Homo sapiens: one gene and its partners. The protein of the gene in region 5 interacts with the protein of the main gene of each other region in a biochemical or structural test. Each region holds a gene or a part of one and is shown on either strand. Other genes may lie near its edges.

The links.
Region 1: the proteins of STX1A (region 5) and TXLNA form a complex in vitro, tested with the Homo sapiens proteins (one study listed by BioGRID).
Region 2: the proteins of STX1A (region 5) and STXBP5 form a complex in vitro, tested with the Homo sapiens proteins (2 studies listed by BioGRID).
Region 3: the proteins of STX1A (region 5) and SYTL4 form a complex in vitro, tested with the Homo sapiens proteins (one study listed by BioGRID).
Region 4: the proteins of STX1A (region 5) and SLC6A3 form a complex in vitro, tested with the Homo sapiens proteins (one study listed by BioGRID).
Region 6: the proteins of STX1A (region 5) and KCNB1 form a complex in vitro, tested with the Homo sapiens proteins (one study listed by BioGRID).
Region 7: the proteins of STX1A (region 5) and VAMP7 form a complex in vitro, tested with the Homo sapiens proteins (one study listed by BioGRID).

Annotation. Positions count from the first base shown.
Region 1 is NC_000001.11:32,178,327-32,182,474, forward strand, and holds the start of TXLNA (alpha-taxilin), read left to right. Parts: upstream 1-1,348; 5' UTR 1,349-1,450; intron 1,451-1,738; exon of another isoform or gene 1,739-1,987; 5' UTR 1,988-2,019; coding exon 2,020-2,188; intron 2,189-2,915; coding exon 2,916-3,251; coding exon of another isoform or gene 3,252-3,350; intron 3,351-4,148. UniProt on the Homo sapiens protein: May be involved in intracellular vesicle traffic and potentially in calcium-dependent exocytosis in neuroendocrine cells.
Region 2 is NC_000006.12:147,207,417-147,210,916, forward strand, and holds part of STXBP5 (syntaxin-binding protein 5), read left to right. Parts: intron 1-3,500. UniProt on the Homo sapiens protein: Plays a regulatory role in calcium-dependent exocytosis and neurotransmitter release. Inhibits membrane fusion between transport vesicles and the plasma membrane.
Region 3 is NC_000023.11:100,729,322-100,733,610, reverse strand, and holds the start of SYTL4 (synaptotagmin-like protein 4), read left to right. Parts: upstream 1-1,489; 5' UTR 1,490-1,607; intron 1,608-2,076; exon of another isoform or gene 2,077-2,105; 5' UTR 2,106-2,193; intron 2,194-4,289. UniProt on the Homo sapiens protein: Modulates exocytosis of dense-core granules and secretion of hormones in the pancreas and the pituitary. Interacts with vesicles containing negatively charged phospholipids in a Ca(2+)-independent manner.
Region 4 is NC_000005.10:1,438,941-1,442,440, reverse strand, and holds part of SLC6A3 (sodium-dependent dopamine transporter), read left to right. Parts: intron 1-950; coding exon 951-1,082; intron 1,083-3,500. UniProt on the Homo sapiens protein: Mediates sodium- and chloride-dependent transport of dopamine. Also mediates sodium- and chloride-dependent transport of norepinephrine (also known as noradrenaline). Regulator of light-dependent retinal hyaloid vessel regression, downstream of OPN5 signaling.
Region 5 is NC_000007.14:73,709,670-73,713,169, reverse strand, and holds part of STX1A (syntaxin-1A), read left to right. Parts: intron 1-1,772; exon of another isoform or gene 1,773-1,853; intron 1,854-3,500. UniProt on the Homo sapiens protein: Plays an essential role in hormone and neurotransmitter calcium-dependent exocytosis and endocytosis.
Region 6 is NC_000020.11:49,363,377-49,367,668, reverse strand, and holds the end of KCNB1 (potassium voltage-gated channel subfamily B member 1), read left to right. Parts: 3' UTR 1-3,792; downstream 3,793-4,292. UniProt on the Homo sapiens protein: Voltage-gated potassium channel that mediates transmembrane potassium transport in excitable membranes, primarily in the brain, but also in the pancreas and cardiovascular system.
Region 7 is NC_000023.11:155,940,345-155,944,269, forward strand, and holds the end of VAMP7 (vesicle-associated membrane protein 7), read left to right. Parts: intron 1-1,538; coding exon 1,539-1,607; coding exon of another isoform or gene 1,608-1,795; 3' UTR 1,796-3,425; downstream 3,426-3,925. UniProt on the Homo sapiens protein: Involved in the targeting and/or fusion of transport vesicles to their target membrane during transport of proteins from the early endosome to the lysosome. Required for heterotypic fusion of late endosomes with lysosomes and homotypic lysosomal fusion.

The DNA of each region.
Region 1 (4,148 bases), on a different chromosome or scaffold from region 5:
TGAAATCCAACATGCACGGCTCTGAAGTCTTTCACTGAGCCTTTGGGGGAAATATTTAACATCCTAACAGCCCTAAACCAACGCTCAATTAGCACAACAGTTTACAATCTTCTCTACCCACAGCCTGATGCGAGGCTCTGGGACTAGACTATTTAGCCAACAGTTCTTGCAAAATTAACTGACTTATAAGTAAATAGTAATTTCAACACCTCACTGCTAATGCTGTAACAACTCTGCAGACCTAGGGAGCAAGTACGGTTTGCAGAGCACTGGGAAGGCTCTGAAGTGACCTTTGAACTGGGCCTCAAAAAATTTTGGGTTTGGCAAAAGTCAAATCTCTTAGGCTTCAAATTCCAGGCACAAGGATTGTTGGGTTTGATTTCATTATCCAGAAGCAATGGGGATACAGAATTGTGATCTCATGTGTAGGGAACTGTGGGGGTTTTTTCTACTTTAACCCCAGTGAGACTTTGTAGAGTGTGGGGTAGAGAAAAGGCTCATGAATATGCCTGAAGCCTAACTCAGCACCTTTCTGAGGAACTGACTGCCAAAATGGTAATGGAGAGGGGAAAATATGACCTACTTTCACAAGTTACCTTGACTGCCTCAGGGAAACCTGCTGTGGTAGTGTTTCTTCTGGGTGAAAGACCAGGTAATTACCTGGGTGCTGGTCTCAGACTTACCAGTTTTGAATCCCTGTTTTAACCACTCACTATCGATATGACCTTGGATAAGTTACCTAACCTTTCTCTTACTGTCCTTTTCCGTAAAATGGGGATAACAGATAGTAGTTATTTCTATGAGTGGTTATGAGAACCAAGCTATTAGATAGCGGGAAAGCACACAGTAAGCGTTCAAGGAACTGCTATTGTTATTAAAAGCCTCCTTTGGAAGAAGGACATTGAGGCCCAGAGAGAGAACAGAACGTCCAGCCACACAGCAAATCCGTGATGAAGTTGGGACTGGAGTATGGGTCTCCTGAGTCTCAGCCCAGGACTCTATCCCTCTTCCCGAGTCCTCGGAGTTCCCGGATGGAGTCACATTTGTTCACGGCCAGGGAGGAAGGTTTGATGGAGGCCTGCAGGAAACAACAGCCAGGCGCAAGGCTTTGGGAGTTGAAGCATAGCTTCTGCGAGATAGAAACAAGGTTGACATGGGCACTCGTGCAGAATGACGGGCTCCTTTTGGACTCCCAGGACTACAGTCCCTTATGCACCTTGGGATCTGCGGCTAGCCCCTGCGTAAAGAGGGACGCGTAGTCTTTTCCCTGCCCCGCCCTGCCGGGGCGCCCGCCTCCGAGGCCGCCCTCGCTTCGTCCTTCCCAGCAAGCTCCGCGCCGGCGCCGGCTATTGATTGGCTGAGGCGGGAGCAGGCGGCTGGCCGGCAGCAGTTACTCGGGGTTTCCGGTGCGAGGCCAGAGGTGGGGAAGCCATCGGACGTCGGCGGTGAGGTACGTGCAGCGGCGGCCGGTGGGCGAGACTATTTGAGAGTGTGCGGGCCGGGATGTTCTCGGCCTGTGGGGAAATCACGCCAACTCCCCGCGTGGGCCGGGGGCTGTCTGGGGATATGCGCATGCGCGGGCGTGCCTCGCGGCTTGAGGGCGCGCGGGGCGTGGGTGGCTGCGCGCGCGGGGGGCGCACGTGGGGCCTGAGGGGCGGGGGCGGTGCCGGGAGTCCCGCCACGTCAGTCTCCGGCCCTGAGCCAATCCCGCGCCCGGCCTGCCGCGAGGGGGCCGGTTGTGCCGGGAAGTGGCTCCAGGGAGAAGAGGCCTCTTCCCTCACCCGCTGTGGGAGCTGCGCCCCGAAAGCCTGCCCCGGCACGTCGGGCTCTCCTGACCCGCCAAGACCAGAGAGCCGTTGGCGCCCTCCGCCCGGGCCTGCCGGTCCGTTTATTTTAAGAAGCTTTGTGCGCCTGCTGTGGGGATTTCTGATCCAGGCTGCGAAGAATTTCGAAGTCTGGAAAATAGCAACTGTGTTTGTTTCTAAAGGATCTTCTCCTGACCCAGCATCGCTCATCACAATGAAGAACCAAGACAAAAAGAACGGGGCTGCCAAACAATCCAATCCAAAAAGCAGCCCAGGACAACCGGAAGCAGGACCCGAGGGAGCCCAGGAGCGGCCCAGCCAGGCGGCTCCTGCAGTAGAAGCAGAAGGTCCCGGCAGCAGCCAGGCTCCTCGGAAGCCGGAGGGTGTGTGCCAGCTCTGCGTTGCCAGCGGGCAGGGGGAGGAGCTGTGGGGTCGGCCTCGCTTCTGGACTTACAGGCCGAGGCCAGGTTGTCCGGGAGGAGGAGATGTAGAATGAGAGGACAGTGCTGGGGGCCGCGGTCCCCCCTGCGCTCTGGCGAGTTGGCGGAGCTGCCCCCTCTAAGCACAGGAACAGAGTTCTGGAGAGAAGCTCCGACGGGATTAAGTCAGGTGGCAGCCAAACGAGGCACCCAGTCAGGAAATCCAGGTCCCGTTAGAAACACCTCAGCCACCAGCAGCTAACTGCCCTTCCTGTTTGAGGCATTTCTAGAATGATCTGAATGGCAAGAAATGGTTTTGTGGGGGGGAAGGAGATGGACTAGAAGTTGCTCCGTGCCATCCCTGTGTGCTGATGCTTTACATACTTTTATGATCTAACAAATATGTTCGGGTGGTAGTGAGAAATAGTTGTGTCATTTTACAAGTAAACAGACTTAAAGAAGTTAGGCAACGATTACTATAATTTCTTGATTTAAAAGATGTTTCGAATCTAAATTCTGACAGGAACTAGATTTGCTGAATGATACTCCATTCTTGCTTCTCAGTTTCCATAAAAAAAAAAGTTAGGCAACATTTAACTCAAACTGATGAGTTTGGCTGGGCCTGAAAAATCCCAACCAGTGGTATAATCGTCTTCTTTCTCACTCTACCCCTCATCCTCTCCTGCTGTAGGGGCTCAAGCCAGAACGGCTCAGTCTGGGGCCCTTCGTGATGTCTCTGAGGAGCTGAGCCGCCAACTGGAAGACATACTGAGCACATACTGTGTGGACAATAACCAGGGGGGCCCCGGCGAGGATGGGGCACAGGGTGAGCCGGCTGAACCCGAAGATGCAGAGAAGTCCCGGACCTATGTGGCAAGGAATGGGGAGCCTGAACCAACTCCAGTAGTCAATGGAGAGAAGGAACCCTCCAAGGGGGATCCAAACACAGAAGAGATCCGGCAGAGTGACGAGGTCGGAGACCGAGACCATCGAAGGCCACAGGAGAAGAAAAAAGCCAAGGGTTTGGGTGAGCAGAGGGCGGCTCTTTGTGAAGCTGGTGAGGAGAGGGAGTTTGGACTTGACGTTCTCTGGGCCAGTCTGTTCTGCCAGGATTCAAAGGAAAACGGTACTTCTCAGAGCAGCAAGTCACTCTAGTCTAATCAAAGCCAGGGATGTGGGGGCCACGGCATAGAGAGATGCAGGAGTTACCAGCACAAAGCCTTCTGGGTTTTGGAGCAACTGGAGCTTGGCATGGGACCTGTTCTCTCTTTGAGAAAATGGAGACGGGAGGCTAGGGTAGGCTCCTGTGCCAGCCAGTACTACCTGCTGTGTGACCTTGGGTGTGTCCCTTCTCCTCTCTGGGTCTTAGTTTATATTTCTCTTTACAGTAAGAAAATTAGACTAGGCCAGAGTTGAAAACCCAAATATCTGCATAAGCTGGGCTGGCCATGGGGCCACCTGAAGATGGAGGCTTTACTGCTTCCTGATTAGTTGCTCTCAGCTAGCCAACTGAGAGCAGGCAAAACTACAGGCTGGGTGCAGTCAGGCTTTTTTTTTTTTTTTTTTTTTTTAAATAAAGAAAAGCCAGAAATCTAGAGTTATGTGAGAACTCTAGATTTTTTCATAGTTAGCAGCTAAAATGGTAAGAGCCAAACAAAACCCATCCGTGGGTTGGATTTGGCACACATGCCTGCGAATTGCAGTCTCCATGCTGATCTCTTGGGCCCTTCTGGGGAGGCAGAGGGAAGGCTCCCTGACTCAGTCACAGGCAATGGGGAATAGGCAGTGACAGTCATTTTACAGCAGGGTATGTATGTTTAAGAGTCTAGGCCGGGTGTGGTGGCTCACGCCTGTAATTGCAGCACTTTGGGAGGCCGAGGCGGGTGGATCACCTGAGGGTCAGGAGTTCGAGAACAGCCTGGCC
Region 2 (3,500 bases), on a different chromosome or scaffold from region 5:
GTTAATTTCTGAGACGGTGTGTCTGAAGTGCTCTTGCCCAAATATCTAGATAGTTATGACCAGAATGTTTTTTGGCTTCAATTGTTAGATATTTTTATTCCTGAACTCAGTGATCAAGACCATCTAGTTTAGGGTTGTGTGAAGACGGGAATGAAGTTATTTTGTCAGTGTGGGCCCTGAGTGTTCAGCAAAACTCTGTAGTGACGAGACTAGTACAGCGTTGGATCTAGATGCATTCTTTGGAACTGAAAGCAGTTTCTTTTTTTTCCCAACAAGATAATTTCATAACTGGACTAGAAGAAGGAAAGTAAAGTTGAATTAAATCAGCTATTTTTCCCTTATTTTGCTTTTCTGTAAAATGAGTTTAGGTTTTATTGTTTTCCCAGTGTGGTCTCGACATTCTTTTGGTAAATAACCTCTTTTCCTTGTAACATCCAATCTGGCCCTTTTATAATTTAGTATAATTATAAGTGAGTACCACCAGCAAGGCTGATTTTATAAAACCAGATTCTTAGACAACACTTTTACCCTAATGCATTTGTGTAATTAGCAAGTTGGCACAAAAGGTGTAAAGCGTTAGGCCTAGTGTGAATTGCCAATTAAAATCAAGGATCAGGTGGCCAAAATTGTCACTTGTATATAACTTTTGGTGTACTTTCTATAGTTAAATATTATGTGAATAAAAGTGAACCTGTAATTATAGTTTGCAATTATACTCTAAAGTTTTTTTTTAGAACCTCCTTACTAAGAATGAAGTATGGAAAACTGTTTACTAAATTACCTTCTACTTTGCCTTTTTATGAGATTTCTATGGACATTCCAGAGTGCTAAATTGGCTTGCTTGCCAGTAATACCACCTAGTCATTCCTTCTGTTGGGTTTAAGTAGCAGATGAGCTTATGAGCTTTATTTATTATGGTTCTGATTTATAGAAAATGACTAAGCCCTTTTTATTTTATCTCATTTTCCATATATGTGCTTTCAGGTATATGTTAGTGTCTCTTTCTTTGTTATTTTTGAAACTGGACACCTAAATTCCGAATCTCCACATTTGGTTAACGTGCAGATTTACTACAAGTGTGTATATTTTGACTTGGATCTTTTGTATATTTTCCTATTGTAATTGGTTTCTTTTGATCCTTTATTCTCTTCTTGTATTAGACTCTTGTAGTCTGTAACACAGTTATCCTAAAAGATATCATTAGAGCAGAAAATAGACTTCTAGATAAAGTATTTTCCTTGCAGATTGAAAAGTAGGCGATGTTTTCAGAAGTAAGATTAGGCTATTACAATTCCAAATGTGTATGTAATTTGACTGATGAATATCTTCCTAAATGTTAGAAGACTTTACTAAATTGATTTATCTACTCTGGGTTAAAACCAAAAAATCAAAGAAGAAAGATATATCTGATAGCTAATGTTTGTAGACAAGGATTAGTGAAAAATCTTAATCCTTTAATAATACATAACAAATTATGAGGCAAAATAAATTAAATGTATTTACTACATTAATGTATAGCAAATGACATATGATATAAATATGCTGAATGCTAAACCTTCTTGGCTTCTGGAGAGAATATGAGATTGAAGAATGAAGGTATTTTTAATAATGTTACTGTCTTTATCTAGACTTCTGATTTACTACTAAAATTTCAAATTGCTTCATACTTTAATCATGGGTTACCCTGATCTTATTTTTAAAGTAAATTTTTTTTCTAAACACAATGAGGTCATTATATATATGAATATTTCAAGGACTGAGCAGAAAAATGGAATTTCAGGTTTACTGAACTTGTGTAAAAATTTGAGGTTTAAAAATGAATTGTCAAATTATTATCGAAGAACCTCATTCATTGTCTTCTTGACTGGTGGAAAATACAGTGAAATAGACAATCTCTGTTTTGATGAGGCATGGATTGTCTTTTAATGCAGAGTAATGTTGCTGGAGACAGGCTTACAAAGTGATTTTTTTACCTTACAGTTGATTTAACAAGCACTTGAGTGTCAGACAACATTAGATTATAAATTGTGGCCTGAATTCTGGTTCTTCGCTTTCCACTAAATAATTACATGTCCTTGAATTAGTTTTTTTTTTCCTTACTATAAAAATGAAGGTGCAGTATTAAATGATTTCTTCAAGGAAGAATTTTATGATTTCAAGTAGCTATGTATTCTAGAGGAGTAATACAAAAGAAATGAAAATGTGATCCTTCCTTCAAAAAGTTTCCAGTTCTAACCAAAGGACTGGAACTAAATAAGCAGTTGAAATTTGAGAATTATTTGGGGCTCTACTGACATTACACAAAGTCAGGTTACATGTAAATTTGTTGCATTTGATGAACATTTCTATACATTGGTAGATAAGTATTCAGAATGACAGGGAGGAAGGAGTGGGAAAATTATTCTAGGCAAGGAAAACAGTATGGGCAAAAGCATGGAAAAGGGAATTATGCGAGTTTGGAGGAATACTAATGAGGCTAGTTGGAATAATTGAGTTAGCAGGAGAAATAAGGAGGCTGTTGAGGGTCTGCAATTTTAACCTGAGGTATCTGCATGATATTCAGTTAGGAATCATAGTTATGTAATAGGAGATGCTGACAGGAAGAAAGCATGATTTTTTAGCATGATTAGTGGAGTAGTGGTATAGGTGAAAAGAATGGACCAAGTGAACTTCACAGAAAATTATTAATCCATATAGGTAGTAAAGTGAATCCAAAACAGGGGTGGCAGAATGGGAATTGGAGAAGGGCTTGACTTGTTTGTATAAAATCTTAGGGAGTAACTAAAGATGATAAGGTTTTGCAAGTAAAGTAATGAGGCAATTACAAGCGAAGTGAAAAACTTGGCAAAGAAGTGGCAGAGAAATGTTGAGTTTGAAATTATGTTATCTTTAACTTTTATTGTATTATCATTTTGGGAGAGTAGCCTAGACTTCTTATTTTAGTGTGAGAATTTGATATACTTTCACTGTTTTGTTTTGGTTTTTTTTGGCTGGTCCTTGGTGATTTCCAGAATTTTGTTACTGAATTTATATTTAAGGTCATTAGTAGCTGTTTGGCATTGTCCATTTATTTTCTGTCAGTGTTTCTCAAAGTGGTAGCTTTTTGGGCAGAATAATTCTGTGGGTTTGTCCAGCACATTGCAGGATATTTAATATCCCCGTCTCCCACCTACTAAATGCCCATGTTGCCTCCCCTGTCAGTGTGGCAACCCAGACCCTCCAACACACTTCCAGGTGCCCCTGGTTGAGAACCACTGCATTTAGCCCAAGTTCTTCACCAGTTAAATAAGAATAATAACCCTACCTAGCTTGTGAGGTTATTGTCACGATTAAATCTAATAAAATGTGTGTGTGTAGCTTTTACGATCATGAAGGGATATTGTGGTGGATACATGATTATTACATTATTATTATAATACATGATTATTATTAATATGAGAGTTTTTCTGTGGCTTTAATTTTCAGGTCCTTCATTTCTCTCAGCGAATACTGAGTGGCAA
Region 3 (4,289 bases), on a different chromosome or scaffold from region 5:
AATGGTGAATCCATTGCCTTGAGTGGCATGTTGTCATTTACTGATATAAGAAATACTGGAGGAGGAACAAATTTAAGAGAAAAGATGGTAGGTTTAACTTTGGATGTGTTGAATTTGAGGTGTCTGCAGGACATTCAAGTGGAGATGTCAAGAACACAGAACTCAATAAAGCAGTCTGGGTAGAGTTATAGAATTAGAGTTGTGACCATATATATGGTAATTAAAGCCAAGTGAGTGAAAAAGATTATTTGGGGGAGGGAGTATATGTATCCTAGCCCTGAGAATGTCTGACTTTCAGAGGTCAGATAGCAGAAGAGTGGCCTACAAAGGTCACTGAGGAGAGGGCAAAGGAGTAGGAGGAAAAGCAAAAGAGTAAAATGTCATAGATGCCATAGAAAGTTTCAAGGACGAGGAAATGGTTAACGGTGTTAAATGTAGGGGAGAAGTCAAGCAAAATAAGGACCAAAAATACCTTACTTATTTATGGATTTATTGACACTGAGGGTCATTGTTTGTGTATCTCATTGAGAAGTTTCAGTGGGGGAAGGAAGCCAGACTGCTGAGAGCTAAGAAATGAATGAGAAGTAAGGGAATAAAAATTGCAATTTCACCTGTGAAGTACATTTTCAATACATTTGCCCATAAAGAGGACCTGAAGAGGGACCTCCTGTGTAGGGAGGTTCTTTTTTTAAGATGGTAGATACTTGAGCATGTTTAATTGCTGATGTGAAATGAGGGGGAGAGGGATGGGAGAGGCAGGGAGAGGAATCTGCAATTACTGGGTAGGTATAAACATTTTCAAGTCTATTGATACATATTGCTCACGTGCTTTCTAAAAGGGTTTTTAACCAACATATGCTGCTATCAGCAATTAAGACAGCTTGTTTGGTGGCTACTTTGTCATCATTAAGTGTTATTAAAAAATAAAAAATATCTTTGCCAAAGAATCTCATTATTGTTCTAATTTGCTTTTCTTTGATTACTAGTGAGTTGGATATTTTAACCAGTTGTGTCCTTGAGTGTGTATGTATGAATTTAGTCTACGCTTTTGCCCAAAACGTTTCTATTTTAGACAGACATTTATTTGCCATAAAAGGCCACAAGTCAAAGGATCAGAATGGTATTATATTTTATTTACTCAAATTAGATAGTTCATACTCTTTTATCTTCTTAGAAGTGTGAGACAATTTGACAACTTTTGACTCAGCTGAACGAAAGAGACAGGTGATTTCACCGTCTAAGAGAGTGACCAACAGATGGAAGTAAGTGGGTGAGGAGGCACGTCTAGTGTTAGACCCCTATCCTCAGTCCCCAGGCTCCCATTCCTAACCTGGAAGGACATTCCTCTTGTGTCTCAAGGCTTTGGGTCCCAGAGCTCCCTTTTGGGCTGAGTGGCCCCCTGCTAAGGAGCCCGGGGCGCTGTGCGGCCCCTTTAAGAGTCCAGCTCCTCCCCGCTCCAGGGAAAGTTGCAGCTTTTTCCGCCTCCCGGGAGGGTGAGAAGGGCCGGCTGCCGGAGCTGGGTTGCGATCTTCCCGGAGCCGGAGACCCTCCCTTGAAACCGGCACTGGGACTTCTCGATCTCTGGAGGCACCTGTTGCAAGTGACAGGTAGGTCAACAGCCAGCGGCCGGCCCCTCGCCCTCGGTCCGGTGCTCCTTCTGGACCCCCAGCTCCTTTTCGCTGCTGAAGCGCCCCCACCCCCATCTCGGGGTCGTGCGTCTTCCCTACCCGCTCTCTGGTCCCCCAATTTTTCCTTCTCCCTAGCTGACCGCGTCTCCCCTCTCCCCGTCCGCCTCTCCCGACCGCATCCCCAGGCTTGGACTCCCGTCTGCTTGGGCGGTCCCTCCCGGCCACTTTTCTTTCTCCAGGGCTTCTTCTGGCCCCTTCCCTGACCCACCCAGCACTAATGCGGTCTGTGCCCCTCTGGGAGCCGCCTCCCCTCTCCTCTTCGGCTCCCCTCGCGGGGAGTGCCCGGGCTTTTTCCCGCCAGCCCGAGCTGGTGCCCCTCCCGAGAGCTGGCCCTGGGGGCGGGGGCGGGGCCGAGCTCCTAGCGGGAACTGCGCCCTCCAAGGCGTCCAGTCACCTTTTCGTGGGTTCCTCTCACAGCGCTCGGCCGTCGAGCGGGGTCGCTAACCCGCACTCTCTTCGGACCTACGACATCGCGGCTTCTCTGGCGTTGGCCAGTCAGCCACAGGTAAAGGCTGGAGGCTGGTTGGCTGGAGTCCTGCCTCAGTGGGCTCCCTCTGCGCTTGGGGCTGGGGACCTGGCTGTGTGCTGTGGAGCTGCTTTATATTGCCGCTCTTCAAGCAGGCTGTGAGAGATCTGGTACTGGAGGAGGGTCCCCGAGATCTCAGAAGGGGCACAGAATGCTTCTGTCTCCTGTGTTGGTTTGTAATGGGGCAGAAAAAGGTGTTCCTCCAACCCTTAACATTGAATGAGGTGGGATTTGGGGTGGTGAAATCATTTGGTTAGAATTCTGGTGGCTTGAAAAGTGGTGACTTTCTAATCAAGCTTTTCTTCCCCCAGTACCCTGCTTCTTCAGGATTAGAGGACGTAAAATTCCAGAGTACTGTGCTTGGCAGGGTTGACCCTAGACCTTGTATATTTGTGGCAAAAATGAGTCTTCTGTACATCCTGGACCTCCTATATTTAACTGGCTTATTTTCTGCTCTTTAAGCTCCCCACCCCCACCTCTCATAAATCTATTAATATTGAGGTATTAATGACTTAAGACTTTTGTCGCTGTGGGAACAATGTTTAATGCAGAGACGTGGCCTTGATGAAGTTTTCTGCGTTTTTGGTTGTTTGGTTTTTAGCACCCTAGTAGAAAAGCACCACCAACTTGGCTTGTGAGGCCCTTTTTGGGCAGAGGATGAACATTTCTGGTAACACAATTTCAGGTGTCTCACTCTTGGTCAGAGCAGTGAAATGGAGCTGGAGGCCTGTTCTGGGGTAATTGATCTGTGAGTATATGTAGCATTCTGGCTCTCTGAGCTTGTTAGGCTCTGGTTGTTAGGCTCCATTGAGCTGGACACTGTGATAAGTTCTTTACATAAAAATGCAATCCTCACAATAACTCTATACAGTAGGTGCTACAGTTATAACCATATTATGATGAAAAAGAGACTGAGAAGTTAAGTGCCTTGCCCTCAAAATCTCGGAGGCAGAGCTTGTGTTCCTATCCTGTCACACCACCTCTGTTGTCTTAGATGTTGGGAACACTGAATAGCTCATGGATGAGGACTAAGTGATTAAAAAATTGTCTTCCAAGCCCAAGTATATGTTTTTCTCCTTGCTTCCACCTTAGATGCACTGCCGAGACTATGGACTACTTACCTTACTGATGTCTTACCCACTTCATTTCCAACATGGGCCAGTTGCCACGTTACCACTATAAGTACACATCCCTGAGTGTAATTAGATGAATGAAATCTCCCGGGTTTTCAGCTCTGTGGTAATTGTCCTGAAGTTAGGGGAGGGTAACCCTGGATTCTAGGGATGTGTGCCTGACTCAACTTCTTCCTCTCCTGCTGGCTAGGGGAGAAATGAGGGAGTGGTAAGTGATATGGATTTCCTGACAGCCATACCAGAGAGCCTGAGGGTGATCGTGTGCTAGTTTTGTCATGGGATGGATGGAGTACCATAGACAAGGATAGGAAGAAAATGTCCTCCCTATTCCCATCTCTGGGACTTTGCTCAAACTGTTCCTTTTTTTCTTCCTAAAAAGCTAACTTTCCTCCCTCATTCCCCCTCCCCTGACATTAATTCCTATCCATCCCTCAAGATTGAGTTCTAAAGTCACCTCCTTTGGAACGGCCTTACTGAACACATACTTCTTCCCCCAAGCAGAATTGCCAGTTATCCTGTGTCCTAAAGCACTTTGTTTACACCTCAGTAAAGCCCTTAACACTGCTTAGTTGTTTTTCCACCTGGAAGGCTGTAAGTTCTCTAAGGGCAAGGTCTGGATCTCGGAGCTCCCTTTGTCTTAAATATAAGATGTTGGCAAATATTTGTGCCAGTAACCGGACATACCATGCCATTCCTTCAAGGGGCTGAGGTGTAGTGATGGTGGGGTTGAGGTACAGAAGACACCTTCCTGAGGCACTTGAAATACCACAGCTAGGAATTTGCCCTGACCACCCTATTTAAACGTGTAATCCCTTCCCTGAACATTCCATATGCCCTTTCCCTACCTTATTACATTGTTCTTGCTTATTGTCTGCCCTCCCACTCCCTCACCCACCATAACATAAACACCCTGTGGGCAGGGATTGCTGTCTGTTGTATTCA
Region 4 (3,500 bases), on a different chromosome or scaffold from region 5:
AGCGAAGATCGAGGCAGGGCCACCGGGGACGTCCAAGAACATTGGTGATCCCTTCCCAGGAGCCTCTTTGGGCCTCCCAGCCTCCCTGCCTGGCCTCCCTCATTGGCCTCTATGCTAGGTCTGGGAAGGGAGGCCTGGGGAAGAATCTGGGGGGAAGCCTCACAGGATGCCTGCGAGGAGGCTGGCATTTTTATGCCCATCTTGAAGAGGGGAAGACAGAGGCCTCAGCAGGTACAGGAAGTTGCCCAAAGACAGAGCTGAGGGGCCCCATGCCTCCCCCTCCCCTTCCCCAGGAGAGAGAGTGGCAAAGCTCTCCCTCACTCCAGTCAGACCAGGGGAGCAGAGGGAATTTAGGAGGTTGAGACCAGGGTTCCCTGGGCTTTGTGCTGGGGGTGGGGGAGGTGCAGGTTTCAGAGGAACTAGGCCTTACCCTGGAGGGGCTCCCAGCACCTGGGGCAGCAAAGACCCTCAGCCACAGTCAATAGGGGCAGCCTCTGAGGGCCCCAGAAGCTGGGGACAGGACGGCAGGGCCCACTCAGCTCAGGGGCAGAGTTGGGGGGTCACAGATTCACAACTCAAGAGGCAAAGAGGATCAGGGCAAAGTGGGGGGACGCAGGCCAGGGAAGGGCACCCCGAACCACCACGGGGAAGGATAGTACCTAGAGCACCGCTGAGCATGGGCAGGGCCTCCCTGTGCTGCTCTTGGGTTTGACTTCATGGCTCGAGGTGCGCAATGACAAGGGGATCCAGGAGGGACGTGTCAGGCACTGACAGCAGTGGAGGGCGGGCTTCGGGACTCATCTACCCTAGCCTGGGACTTCCCGTTGGAGAGTGGGGTGAAACGGTCGGGCCAGGACATGGATGGTTGACTGGGGTAGCCGCCCAAGCTCCCACGAGGAGAGATGGGCCCTTCCGAGGCCCCAAACTAAAGGTGCTTTTCTGCCCCACAGGTGCCTTCCTGGTCCCCTACCTGCTCTTCATGGTCATTGCTGGGATGCCACTTTTCTACATGGAGCTGGCCCTCGGCCAGTTCAACAGGGAAGGGGCCGCTGGTGTCTGGAAGATCTGCCCCATACTGAAAGGTAATATGCGGGTGCCTCCCTTCACCCTGGCGCAGCGCGGATCATGGTGGTGACGCTGGAGCTTTCAAAGCAAGCCAGCCGCATCATGGGCATCCAGCCCTGCTTTGCTAAGACACAGGCATGGCACACGCCACTTGAACTTGGGTCCCACCTTAAAGATCTGCAGTGACAAGGACTGGATAGTTCATTCCCTTGCTCTAGGTGAGGGTCCTGCAATTCATTTGTGGTGTTACTTTGTCAAGATGCTAAAATGTAGTTAAGATAAAACACATGTCTATCTATGGATCTGCCATCTACCTATCATCCATCGGTCCATCCGTCAATCATCTGTTATCTATCTATCCATTATCTATCTTTATTATTGGTCTTTATATCAATCATTCACCCATCTATCTACCTATCTACCTAATCCATCCATCTATCATCATCATCTATCTGTATCTGTTTCCTGTGGCTGCTGTAACAAATGACACAAACTGGGAGGCTTAAAAGGCACACGTTTATTGTCTCACAGCTCTGGAGGCTGGAAGTCCAAGATCAAGGTGTCTGTAGGGTTGATTTCTTCTGAGGCTGTGAGGAAGCATCTGTTCTAGCCTCTCTCCTTGTCTCAGAGATTGTCTTCTCCCTGTGCCTCTTTATACTTCTTGCTTCTATGCATATCTCTGTAACCAAATTCCCCGTTTTTATGAGGCCAGAAGTCCTGTTGGATTAGGGACACCCTAATGACCTCACTTTAACTTGATCACCTCTGTAAAGACCTTGTCTCTAAATAAAGTCACATTCTGAGGTTTGCGGGGTTAGAACTTCAACAGATGAACTTGGGGGAGGGACACATCCCACAATTCTATCTATCTATTATCTGTCAATCATCTATTCACCCGTCTGTCATCTACCCATTCATCCATCTATTTTCTTTTGATCCATCCACCTATCAATCCATTCATCCACCCATCCAGTCATCCATCCATTCATCTATCTATGGATCTATCATCCATCCATCCATCCATCCATCCATTATCTATTGATCCATCCATCTACCTATCGATCCATCTATCTATCCATCCATCCATTCATTCATCCATTCATCTATCTATGGATCTATCCATCCATCCATCTTCTATCTATTCATCTATCCATTCATCCATCTGTTATCCATTGTTCCATCCATCCATCCATTCATCTATGTATGGATTAATCCATCCATCCACCTATCGACCTATCCACCTATCTACTAGCTATTGATCCATCTAGTTGTCACTGAACCTTTCCGGCTGCTGATGTCCTGCTCTGGCACCATGAAATGGACACACCTCGTGTTGAGTGCAGGTGGCCTGCCCAGCACCAAGCCCTCTCCCAGCATTTCTGACTCCATCTTCATGAGACCCTGGGAAGGGCACACACTAGGTCTCTGTGTTGGAGATGCAGATGCTGAGGACCAGAGGGCCGGGGTCGTTCCCCCTGGTGTCCCCATCAGAGCAGAGTGGGATTTGATCCCAGACGTTTCTGACTCCCCAATCCCTGCACGCAGGTCACACTTGCCCAGTGGGCCAAAGCCACCTCTCAGGGGCTGGTGGTTCAGGGAGGATTCAGGCATTTACTCAGAGGCACCACTCAGAAAATTGGCATTAAGAAAATGACTACTAGAAGGTCAGCCTCTGGATACTCATAGAAGTTCTGGAAAAGCTGTGTGTTTAGAAGACAGCCGAGCCCAGCACGGCCCCAGGACGCATTACCAATGGGTCAGGGGTGGGCCTTCAGAGGCGAGCCGCTGACCTCCCTTAGGAGAGGGAACAGATGGCATTTCACAGCTGCTGAGGTCAGGCTCCAGGAGGAGAAGTCAGTCTCGCAGCCGTGGAAATGCTGAGACTGGACAGGTGTGATGGTTCTTCCCAGGCACGAGACTCATTCGTTCTTAATGGGCTGCTTAGTGAATCTTATGACTTCAGTAATTTCTTCCTGGGCTCCACATTCACTGGACTGCACTGAAATGGAGCTACAAAAAGAGGCCTCCCTCCCCACCCCCACCCCCACCCCCACCCCACACACATCTTCAGAGTGAGAGACAGATGCTTTGGGCATGCACTGGTGCCAGACGACCCCTTGGCGGGATCTGCAGGTAGAAGTCAAACCGTACAAGAATTGCTCAGAACATGCCTCCGTCCCCGTCGTCAGGTCCCTGATATCAGGTCCCCAATGGAAGAATGCAGCAGCCAACGGAAGACCCAGGCCTGTTGTTACAGACAGACAGGGGCGCGTGTCAAATCCGGCGTTGCAGTGAACCCAGGCTAACAGTTCAAGACACACGCGTTACCTGTGTCCTGCCTGGCCCTGGCCAGCGGCACGGACGTGTTTCAGAGAGGAGTGCTGCCTCTGAGCCTGCAGTCGTAAGCGATGCTGAGCTTGCACCGTGGTCCGTGT
Region 5 (3,500 bases):
AGAGCCAGGAGCCATCAGAATCCCACAAACTGAAATAAGCATCAGAACAAATGAAGAAATGAAACAGGAAGAAGGTCCTTCACTCGAACCCCAAATCCACTCCACAGACAGTGGTTGGGAAGGGCTTGGGGCTTTTCTTGACAGGAAATGCTACATGATCACTTATCTGATTCCTGGCTGTATTACTAGAGGTAGATCATATAGAAAGAGGGAGGGGATGGGCCAGATCTTTGGCATTGCCCAGACCACAGTCAGCAGCAGATTCAGTTTGTGTGCTGTATGACAGGAGACAGAGGCACAGTGGAACAACTCTTGGGCAGGGGCTGTAATTTGGGGTCCCTGGGAAGGATCTGAAAGGGAAGGAATACTTAAAAAGAAAAATCTAGGGAGGATGTGGATGCCGCCTTCAAATCTATAGCAGGGGTACCCCAGGGAGAGGGCACCCACAGGTTCTTTATGGCCTGGAACCAAACCACAGGGAAGAGAAGGACTCTAACAGTTGGGGCTGCCCGAGATGGGCAGAGCTGTCTGGGGAAGCTAGTGAGCTCACTGTCACAGGAGGTTTGCAAGCTGAGGCTGGCAGCTGAAGCCAGGGGGACTTTTCAGGTCCCTTAGGGCCTGAGAGTTTTCAGCCATGGCTCCAATAGGAATGTGAATGGCGTGTGGAAGAACAAGGTGCGAGATACTGATTTGGGGGGGCAGGGAGGCTTCTGGAAGGAGGTGGCATCGAGGAAGAAGGGAATGTCACCTTCATGGAATCAGCATCCCGGGCAAAGGGATGTGCCTGGGGGAAGTTGGGGGCAGAGGGTGGATTGTAGGGCCAGGAACCAGTTGTAGGTGTGGGGGAGTGGGGTCTGATCCCAGGGGAGGGCAGCAGGATAAAGAGCAGAGCTGGGGGTGAAAATTCCCAAGAACGAAGAAGTAGAAGGACGTGGGGAGGAAAGGCCCACTTCGCCCATCCCCTCTAGGTTTTGCTTGGAGCTGTGGCTGGTTTGACCATGCCTCAGAGGTCAGGCCCTCAGCCCCCCGACTGGCTTTGGGGCCAATCTCAATGCCACCTCCAGGGTAGACTTGACCTGCGTGCCCCCATCTACCCTGGCCCTGATCTCCCTTTCCCCAGCCCTACCCTCATAGACGGAGGGTCCAGAGGAGGATGCGGGCATCTCTCCTCCCAGCCCTTCTGTTAGAGAAGCTTCCTGGTCCAGCCTTCAGCCTTCTGGGAAGGTAGCAGGTCAGAGCTGGCCGGATGCCTGGAGAAGATCTGCCCTCATTACACAGATGGGCAAGCTGAGGTCAAGAGAGGCACCAGACAGGTGCCAGGGGTCTCTGAGGGCAGGACAGGGGTTCGGTGGGGCTGGCAGTGACGCTCGTCTCTGGCCACGGAAAAGGAGCTGGATAATTCTCCATCCACCCTTTGTCATCTACCCTGATCCTCTGAGCACCAGGGCAGAGAGGGCAGGACACTGAATGGCAGGAGCTCCTGGGGCCACTTCCCAACCTGGCAGCCTGCCCAGGAGGAGGAACTGGGCTCCTCCTGGCAGTGCTCTGCCTCAGTTTCCCTAGGGAGGGCTCCTCTGACTCAACTCCTAGGCCTGTCACGGTCTAAAAGCGTGAAAACGGCTCCTGGATTTTCTGTGTCTGTAGGGAGCTTGGTGGGGGAGGGGGTACCACCTGGTGACAGCCCCAGGCACTCGGTGGGGAGTGGGAACGAGGATTTATTTTAGCTGCTGGGGAGGTGGTACGATATCTTAAAGAGAGGAGGCCCCTCTGAGCCGCCTCTATCAAAGCTCCTAACTACCCCCTCTCCCCATGAGTCCCCACTTTGATGGGGTGATGTGAGCCCCTCACAGAACATGCTCAGGCCGGGCATGGTGGCGGCTCACACCTATACTCCCAGCACTTTGGGAAGCCAAGGTGGGAAGATCACTTGAGCCCAAGAGTTTGAGACCAGACTGGGCAACATAGTTTGACCCTGTCGCTACAAAAAAAAAAAAAAAATCAAAAAGTAGCTGGGTGTGGTGGCATGCATCTGATGCATCTGTAGTCCCAGCTGCTTGGGAGGCTGAAGTGAAAGGATGGCTTGAGCCCGGGAGGTTGAGGCTACAGGGAGTTATGATTGTGCCACTGCACTCCAGCCTGGGTGACAGAGCGAGACCCTGTCTCAATCAATCAATCAGTCCATCCATCAATCAAACAAACATACCTGCCCTGCTTCCCCACTTTTTCTCAGCCCTCCCTCCATGCAGCCAGGTGTCACTGTCCCCATTTCACAGAAGAGTAAATAGAGCCAGAGGGGTTAAGGCCCAGCCTGATGAGTCCCATCAGTTCTCTCAGCCCCTCAACCTCCACCTGCCTCCGTCCTGACGCGAGAGCACCGAGGTGGGGTCAGTGCTGAGCTAGTCAGTGGCCACTCCCGTGAGGCACTCAGAAATGAGGTGGGAACAAGATCAGATGTGGTGGTTCACGCCTGTAATCCCAGTACTTTGGGAGGCCGAGGCGGGTGGATCACCTGAGGTCAGGAGTTCGAGACCGGCCTGGCCAACATAGTGAAACCTGTCTCTACTAAAAATACAAAAATTAGCTGGGCATGGTGGCATGCACCTGTAATCCCAGCTACTCGGGAGGCTGAGGCAGGAGAATTGCTTGAACCCAGGAGGTGGAGGTTGCAGTGAGCCAAGATCACACCACTGCACTCCAGCCTAGGTGACAGTGCGAGACTCTCTCAAAAAATAAAAAAATAAAAATAAAAGAGGTGGGAACAAGCCCTGAGCCCCAGGCTGAGAGACCTCAGTCCCTGCCCCAGGGTGGCCACCCCGGATATCCTTGCCTTGGCTGCAGAGAGAGACCTGGCCTTGCCAGCAGCGTGGGCTGACCCTGGCCAACTGGCGGTATGAGGCAGACAGTAATAATTGTGCGCAGCATGCTGGGAAGTCAGAAGTATGATTACCCCTGCCCCACGATGGGGGTGGCTTTTGTACAGCTGGTCCTGGGACAGTGGAGTGGGGCTTGTAACTGTGGCTGAGGCCTAAGGCAGGACCCAAGCCAAGTGGCAACATGACTGTCCCCTTGTGCCTGCTGGGCCCAGGTCTGGGGACTGGAAGGAGGCAGACCGAGGTCCAATGGCAAGACCGACAGGGAGGCCAAGTGCAGTGGCTCACACCTACAATCCCAGTGCTTTGGAAGGCTGAGGCAGGAGGATCGCTTGAGGCCAGGAGTTCAAGACCAGCCTGGGTAACACAGTGAGACCCCCGTCTCTACAAAAATAAAAATTAAATTTAAAAACTGTTTTAAAAAAAGACTCACAGGAGATTCCTAAGAGATCTGATCCGTGCCACCTCGGGACTGGGGTTTAGTGGTGCCCAGGGCTGGGACACAGTAGGCAGGTCTCCCCTTATAGGGCCCACTCTGGAAAGGGAGCTTGGGACCTCTGGGCTCCACCTGAATTAAAACCACTGGAGCCAGGCATGGTTGTGGAAACCTATAATTCCAGCTACTCGGGA
Region 6 (4,292 bases), on a different chromosome or scaffold from region 5:
CTCCTGAGTAACTGGGATTACAAGAGCGCACCATCACGCCCAGCTAATTTTTGTATTTTTAGTAGAGGCAGAGTTTCTCCATGTTGGCCAGGCTGGTCTTGAACTCCTGACCTCAGGTGATCTGCCTGCCTCGGCCTCCCAGTGCTAGGATTACAGGTGTGAGCCACCACTGCACCCAGTCCATTTCAATCCATTTCTAACAGCTTCACCAAAAAACAGTGGCCAGACACCCTTGCAGCCAAACCCTGAGAAGAGATGTCCCCGAATCTGCTAGCTCATCTCCCCTTCCCTTGCCAGCTGCCTGGCTCCATAGAGCAGGAGGTGTGTGGCAAGGACAGGGGCAGTTTTCCAGCTTCCACCTATCCACGCCTGGGGGAGTTTTTGGACTGTCCTGATAATTAATTCCAGAGGCAGTTTTCAGTCCTGGGTGGGCGGAGGACATCTCACTAGGCAGGATCTTCAGCAGAAAGTGATTCTCCATCCGTCAACTCATGCAGGAAGATGAAGAAAGCCCAGATAATCTCCAACTTGCATTCGTTTAGGTTTTGGTATACCACCCACCTCACTGTCAGCTGCAGGGCTTGGGGCTCTGCCTAGAATCAGAAATTTGAGCCAAACTGGGACCCTCAGATGGCAGTGAGCCATCCCATCAGATAACTCCCAAGAGGAAGCCAACTCAAATATGAATTTTATTATTCTGGACTATGACCCTGATCAGAGTTCTCCCACCCCGAAAACCTCTGATAGTCTGGTTTGAACCAGAGTCAAATAAAACAGACAAGATTTTTTTTTCCTCTGCACAAAAGCAAAAAAACAAAACAAAAAAAAGTCTGCCAGTAGTTTCCTGGGTTTGATGCCCAGATAAGCAAACACTGTTGCCTATGGCTGTTGCTGTTTTCATCAAGAAAGAGGTTATATAGTTTGCATTTCCATCCACTCTCCCTGATTTTATCTTAACCTAGAATTTCTCCTGAACTACCCCAAATGCCAACTTGAATTTGGGTAGGGCTCTGTTAATCGAGGGAACCCTCATCTTCACTTATAAACCTAATTCTCTGTTCCTCCCTCCAAAGATCCTGAAAAGATCTCCTAAAGGCTGGCCAGGATGGGGTGGAGTGGGGCAGTGCACCTGAAGAAAAAAACTTAGCTGCCAGCTGGCTGTATGCAAGTTCTCCGAAAATTTCTATTGTATGAAAGGGATGGGGTCAATTGCAGCTCAAATTAAGGAAGCCCTCCTAACAGGCTGGGTTGTCTGACCATGGAGCTCAATGCCATGGTGGACAGTGAGCTCCCTTATATCACAGGTGTTTAAAGAGAGGCTGGCTAGATGGTGTAAAAAATGGGCATTGCAGAGGGGCCCTAGCATTGCATGGAAACTGGGCTGAACAACCACAGAAATTCCTCTTTGTTTCTTGGAGTGTGTGTGTGTGTGTGTGTGTGTGTGTGTGTGTGTGTGTGTGTAGGTGGTTTCAACACTCTGGATATAAGCTCAAGCCACTGAGGCAAAGGCATGCAGCACAATTAGCAGGAATGCAACTTCTGGGCTTTGGAGCTCTCAGAGGGGGTGTCCAAGAGACAAGTCTGCTTCCTTCCGGCTCCGTCTTGGAACATTTTAATGACTGTCAGTCACCAATCCAACCCATCCCCAGTGGCCTACCAGGCACCACATTGGGATGAGACTCATGCTACCCTTCCCCAGGCCAGCCAAGGAGCAATCCACGCTGTCCCCCATCCCTGGCTGGCTGTCTTATGGTGCTTCAGCCCCTCCGCCCAGCTCCTGTGCCCTCATGAGCCTGGGGCTTTCTGTATAAAAGATGCAATGATATCTGTTCCCCACTAGCCATCCCCACAATGAACAACTTCCCAGGCAATAGCAAATGGCTCCATTCCAAAAGGGCTTGTTTTTTTGGTAAATCAAATAAGAGACCCCACTCAAGACCTTTGAAAGTCCCCGTCAATGAAAAAAATCCAGAAGGGTCAAAAGAGAAAGGCAGCTTTTAATCCAGTTTCACAGCAAAACCAGGCTCTTGGCTGCCTCCAAGCAGAATGCCACTCTCCTGCAGCTGTGGCCTCCATCCCAAATCATCCTGCATACTGCATTCTCTAAGGAAAGCATTTGACAAGAGAGGGTTTATGTATGGTGGATTGGGAGAAAGTGAGACTTCAACCTCAGGGTGAACCGAAGACTGGTTTGTCTTTGGTTGTTTTAGTATGAGGTTGGGCAGGATGATATGTTTGGATGGGTAGAATGAGCAGCCGCCTTCCTCTGAAACCAAAATAAAATAAAAACCAGTTTTCAAGATTCCTCCCAACTCCTCACTGGAGGCTCTGCCCTGCAGAATCACTCAAGTTGCAACAACACAAGGAGACAAAAATAGGATATTTCATGAAAATATAAGAAACTCCCAATTCCGTCCCATTAGGATGCCCTCAAGGGGCCATGCAGGGATCTTCCCATACTTCCTGCTTCCCTGATCTGAACCAAGATTGGAAAGAGGCAGGCAGCAGAGAAGATGCCCAAGAAACTCTGACATATCCACAGCTTGGCTCTGCCCCTTGGGCTTCACTGGGGTTTGGGCCTCCCTCTTGGTTGAGCTGAGTGTGCCTGAGTGGGTGGGGACAGGGAGGATTCTCCAGGTCTATCTTGATTTCATAGGTCCTTCTCAATCCAAGGTCAAAAACTGAGAATCTTATTTTCTGCACCAGGAACTCAGGGTTATCCCCAACCTATGCCGCTGGCACATGATGGTCATCCAACCTGTGTTTTTGTGAGTGAGTGAATGTGTGACTGGTTGGCCTCTGAGTGGATGACTGGATGCGTGAATGTGTGAGTGAATGGGGGAGTTAATGAATCCCTACCTAACTGTGAAGAGAAGAAAAATGAGGAGCCCCTCTCCCACTGAAACCCATAACTGCCCCATCAAGGTCATCTTTCTTTGACTCAAGATGACATCTCAATTTGATGCTTGTAGGCCCCAAGCTGATAAGGGCCACAGCCCTCTCAGAGCCACACTTCCTGGGGGCCCACAGAGCAGCTCTGCCCTCCTTCCTCTTCCCCTACCCTGCATTTCTCAGCCTCATGTTCTATTTTAGCTCACACACGACCCATGGGGGGGACCACCAAGTGGTTTTCCAATGGACTAAGCCAAGGGTTCGAAGTTGGGACTTCCTTTGGTCTGGGACTTCCTGGGGCAGAAACATAGGAGCCAACATCTGGAAACTGGATTGCATTCCCTGAGCCATGGGAGTCCAGCTGGATATTAAGGCCAGCCTGCCCTCCAGCTTTTAGAGCCGAAGATCTTTTTTTCTGAGCCCCAAAGCCGTCATGATAGTATGCCCCCAGATCCCATCAGCTAAGACCCTGTCTCTCCCAGGAACCCGTCGTGTGAGGTTGGGGCTTTTCTGCCAGTAAAGCCATTCTGATCACCTCACCCTTGACAGGGGCCAAGCCAATCACATTAGCCATAAATGACCAATGTCCTCAGCCACTCTTTTCTCGGGGGTGCATTCGTGGGTCCTATTCATCTCTCGTCAGTTAATGTCTCTAGTCCTTCCTGTAAAGGTGAAAATAAGCATTGCGCATGTGCGCAACACACACGCACACACACACACACACACACACACACAAATCCCAGTGTCTTTTTATGCATGTGGTGAGATGAAATTGTGATCTTTGTGTGACCTCCAGCTGCTGTCTTGTCTTGTAAAATATGTCCAAATGTTTAAGAATTTCTAAGCAAATGGTCCCTTAATGAAGTCTGCAGAGTTCAATAAAAGGTATGGAAAAAACAAGCCTGGAGGAGTTTATTTTTTGGAGGGCACAGGGAGGCGAGATGGGAAGCGCTGTAAGGGGACTTGAATCAGGAATCCTGTCTCCAGGCGGCATCAGCTTTCTCTCTTCCCCCCAGAAGAGGGAGGACATGAAAATATAACTGGCTTTTCACCCCCACTATGCAACCCAGTGGTAACCCATCCTACATGATATTCATGAATCAAAGTTCCAACTCTGGTCATTTAGTTCTCATGTCAACTATGCCTGGGCATCTCATTAAAAACTGTCTCACAATAGAAGGCATAAGCTCAAATGACTACTGGGGCAGAGCAGGTAACATAAATGAGTAAAGCAACTTAACTAAGAGACTTAAGGGGGTGGTGGTGAGTGTGATAAAAAACAGAACACACACCCTGTCTAAAGGGGTGAACACCATTCATCTCCAGCTGGTTGTTACCCCATAGGGATGTGGGCCCAGCAATATTAGATCTTTCTAAGAGAAGTCAGAAATCTGGATTTT
Region 7 (3,925 bases), on a different chromosome or scaffold from region 5:
CAAGCAGATAACTCTGACCCTGCTTCTCCTCTACCACAGCTTGAGGGTCCTCTGCCTTAGACAGCTGGATTTATCTAAAAGAGAAGAGCAGTCATAGATCTGTAGATTTTATACTGGAAGTAATTGTCATGGCCTTGAATGGTTCCTTGCTCAGGTTTCTCTTTCTAATATCACATTTTAGGCTCCTGAGCTTAGCTTCTTACTTATTATTTGGTCTGGGAGTTTAGGTTGATTTGTGCAGCTGAATTGTTAAATTCAGAATATATTTACTGATTACTTATTACATGCAGAGCACAGCTCTAAATGCAATATCAATCTTTGCGAAAAGGTGTTGTCACCTAACGAGATGTACTTCAGCTTGAAAAATCCTTATATTACAGCTGTGACAAATAGTCAACTTTACATCAAGTTGGTAAACTTTACATTTGTGGCATGTGTATGTGTGAGTATGTGTGTGTATGTGTGAATATGATGTCAGAAGTTCAACCTATTCATTAATAAACAGAATTTGCTGTAATCTGCCCCCCAACCCTGGCAATATTTATAGTTCCCTACAAGGCAAAATGCTTTGCTCACTTTTGGAGCAAAGGGCATGCAATTCATCAATGCATCCTTTTCCAAGCTTGCAAATAATGAAATCAGTCACTTAAAGATCTCAAAAAGTTGTAATTTAAAGCAAAATAAAGCCAGGCATAGGGGCTTATGCCTGTAATCCCAGCACTTTGGGAAGCTGAGGCAGGAGGATTGCTTGAGGCCAAGAGTTTGAAGCCAGCCTGGTCAACATAGTGACACCCTATCTCTACAAAAATAAAAAATAAAAAATAAATAAAATAAAGTGACTAATGCAGTGAACCTAATGTTTAAAATCTATTTTTTGTGATATAATAATGTGAACAAGTAGTGACTTTTATAATATAATTTAAAATTATAATCTAGAATTAAAAAGCAAACACATCTGTAATAGCACCAGTATTTTTGCAGTGTTACTTACATCATCTGCTTTTCATTGTTTTGGTCATCGTAATTATTGTGTCATTATCCACTGAACAGTTCGTAGCAGTGTTCTTGCTCATAAGTGATATAGATGAAAGCCTTCTACTCAGGCTTTTAAAATATATTCTTATATTAATCAAAAATAAAATTCATGTGCAAAACCTAAAAATATAATTAATGAAACCATACTTCAGGAGAATTATGGTTATTTGTGATTTTTTTATGACTTGTTAATGACACATCAGTATGAGTTGCTCATTTAGCCTTGATTCTGCCGAGTTACCAGTGAAGAGCAACAACCCCACTGCTTTCTCTCCCACTGAAGGAAACGCTAGAGTTCAAGTGGGTGTGAGTTATACCAAAAACGACAATGTTAACTACACTTCTGTCTTGGAAAATACTTGTTTAGTGTGTTCCATTACTACATAACTGCTACTCTAATGGAATCAGAAGTATTTCTTAATAAGGCTCTACTTTCCTATATATATTATTTAGAATAATATGATTGATTCAAGAAAATAAAATTGCTCTCCTCGTCCCTCCAGGTGTTCATCTATATCATTGTTTCACCTCTCTGTGGTGGATTTACATGGCCAAGCTGTGTGAAGAAATAGGAAAGAAGAAGTTACCATTAACCAAGGATATGAGAGAACAAGGAGTTAAAAGCAATCCATGTGACTCAAGCCTTTCACATACTGACAGATGGTATCTGCCAGTCTCTTCAACCCTCTTCTCACTTTTTAAAATCTTGTTCCATGCCTCCAGGTTTATCTTTGTCTTATCTACCAGTTTATTCCTGTGAACTTCAGATTGAACCATTCATTGCAGCAGTAGCCTTAAAAAGGCTTTTGTTTATTTCTTTGGTTTGTTAACTAGTGTCATCTATTTAGAGAAACATTTTTGTTTTTAATTGCTCAAAGCTGTCGCCGCTAGTCTTATGAGCTATCTACTAAAACTATGGAGAAACTTTGTATGTGCACACAAAAGTATTCAAGAGACAGTATTGCTAACATCTCATCTTAATGTCTTTTGTTATTGAGAAGTTTTAGGTGCTTCAAAACAATATAAATGGATAATAGTTGTTATTTGGGGAATTGTAATGATGTTGGTGCTGCTTCCTTCTAAGAGCTCAGACAAGTAAAGTATGAAACATTCTTATTTCAGTTAGATGGGGAACATTTTGCTAGCCCATTAGAAGCACACAGAATTATCCTTGTCCTCCTAATATTGACTTTCAGGAATAAAGTTCAGTGTGCTGATCATTCACAATACAGTGGATAGCTTGATATCTTCTGTTTTCCCATTGCAGTTGATTTGAGAAGATGAAGGTTTAAATATTGTTGAAAGTTGCAGTTTTTTAAATGTGTTCCTTTTTCTTCTGTGAATATTTAGGGCAATCGTGTCGCTAATAGAATATGTAGTAGAGGGGGTGGGGAGGTAAATTCCTCTGACTTGCCAAAGAAAAAGAAGGGAACCACAGTGGATATGCTAGCATTTTAGCTGTGCAAAGGGAGGTAGTGTGGGAAAAGTGTTTCCATTCTGGGAAAAGCCCAAACCGAATACGGTCAGCAGTCAACTCCAGGGTTTGGGCTTGATTCCTGTTGAATAATAGTTTTGAGCATTCTTTGTGGTTAAATAAATTCTTAAATCTGCCTAGTTTTGATGAATTCTTTTGTGAAACTTGAAAGAGAATAGACAGTATGACATATAGAATTAATACAAAACAGTTTAACAACCATTTAACTGCAGTGTAAGAAAATTGGACTGTAATCATATCGCTACTGGCATCTGTTATCTAGTATGCATTTCTGGTGTGTATCTGAAAGGAAGACATTTTCTACCCTAGATCCAATTGCATTTATTTATCAATAAGTGCCATTAAATTGAAATTATATTACATTTTACACTTTCTCAATGAATGAACAAATTAGTCTGTAGAATCTAGCCACCTGTTTAGCCTAGTCATGTGCCTTGAACATATATGTGTCCCATAATCTGGCTCATGGTACCTGTTCTTCTATCCAAACCTTTCAATTCATGCTACCTGATTCATTTATTTGACATAGATCTTAGGCCCACTTGAACTCTTTTCTTGTTTATCTAGCATAGCACAAACGTTTTTCCAGTCTTCTTTATCAACACTAATGCCTCTTAATTGCATCAGTATTTCCTATTGGAAAATACATCTGTTCCAGAAAAACATTTGGCATTCCTGAATAATTTCCAAATGTTTTTAATCCAAAGAAAAAGGTTTAAAGCTTATTTCCCTTTCTTATACACACCTGAATAAAATTGATGTGCATGTTTTAGGGATCAATTACCTAACTGTTCCTTGGTCTATTTATGTATAAGAATGCTTTTTAAAGCACATGTCTCATTTTAAATGACGCACAAACTGAAGATGTTAATAAAATTTAAGAGTAATACAATGATTTGCTTGTTTTAGAAGTTCTTTCTGGAACCTAATTTCTTCTGATGACATTTGCCATTGTTTACAGAACAAAAGTATTTTACTTATGCGGAAAATATATTAAGAAGTGTTACCTGGAGACTTCCAGTAAAGATCTGTAGCATAGTCTCAGGTGTGTAGAATTTCTTCAAAAGACACAAATGAACTTAAAAAATATATAGCCCATGCTGAAACCAATGAAAGATTCTGAGATGATCACACAGCCTTCACAACTATCGTCCTGAGTGCATGATTTAGACAGAACTGAAAAAGAACCCCAGGGATTTTCATCCAGTTTAGCACAATTCTGAAAAATCTTTCTATCTAAAGTTAAATGACTGGTTCTGAAAGAGACTCAAGCGGAAGGCATAATGGTGGGAGGGAATAATTCATTATAGCAAACAGGGTACCTAAACAGAAATAAAAGAAAAACAGGCACAAATCAAATATACAAATAGATAGGTCACAACAAAATAATCAGTC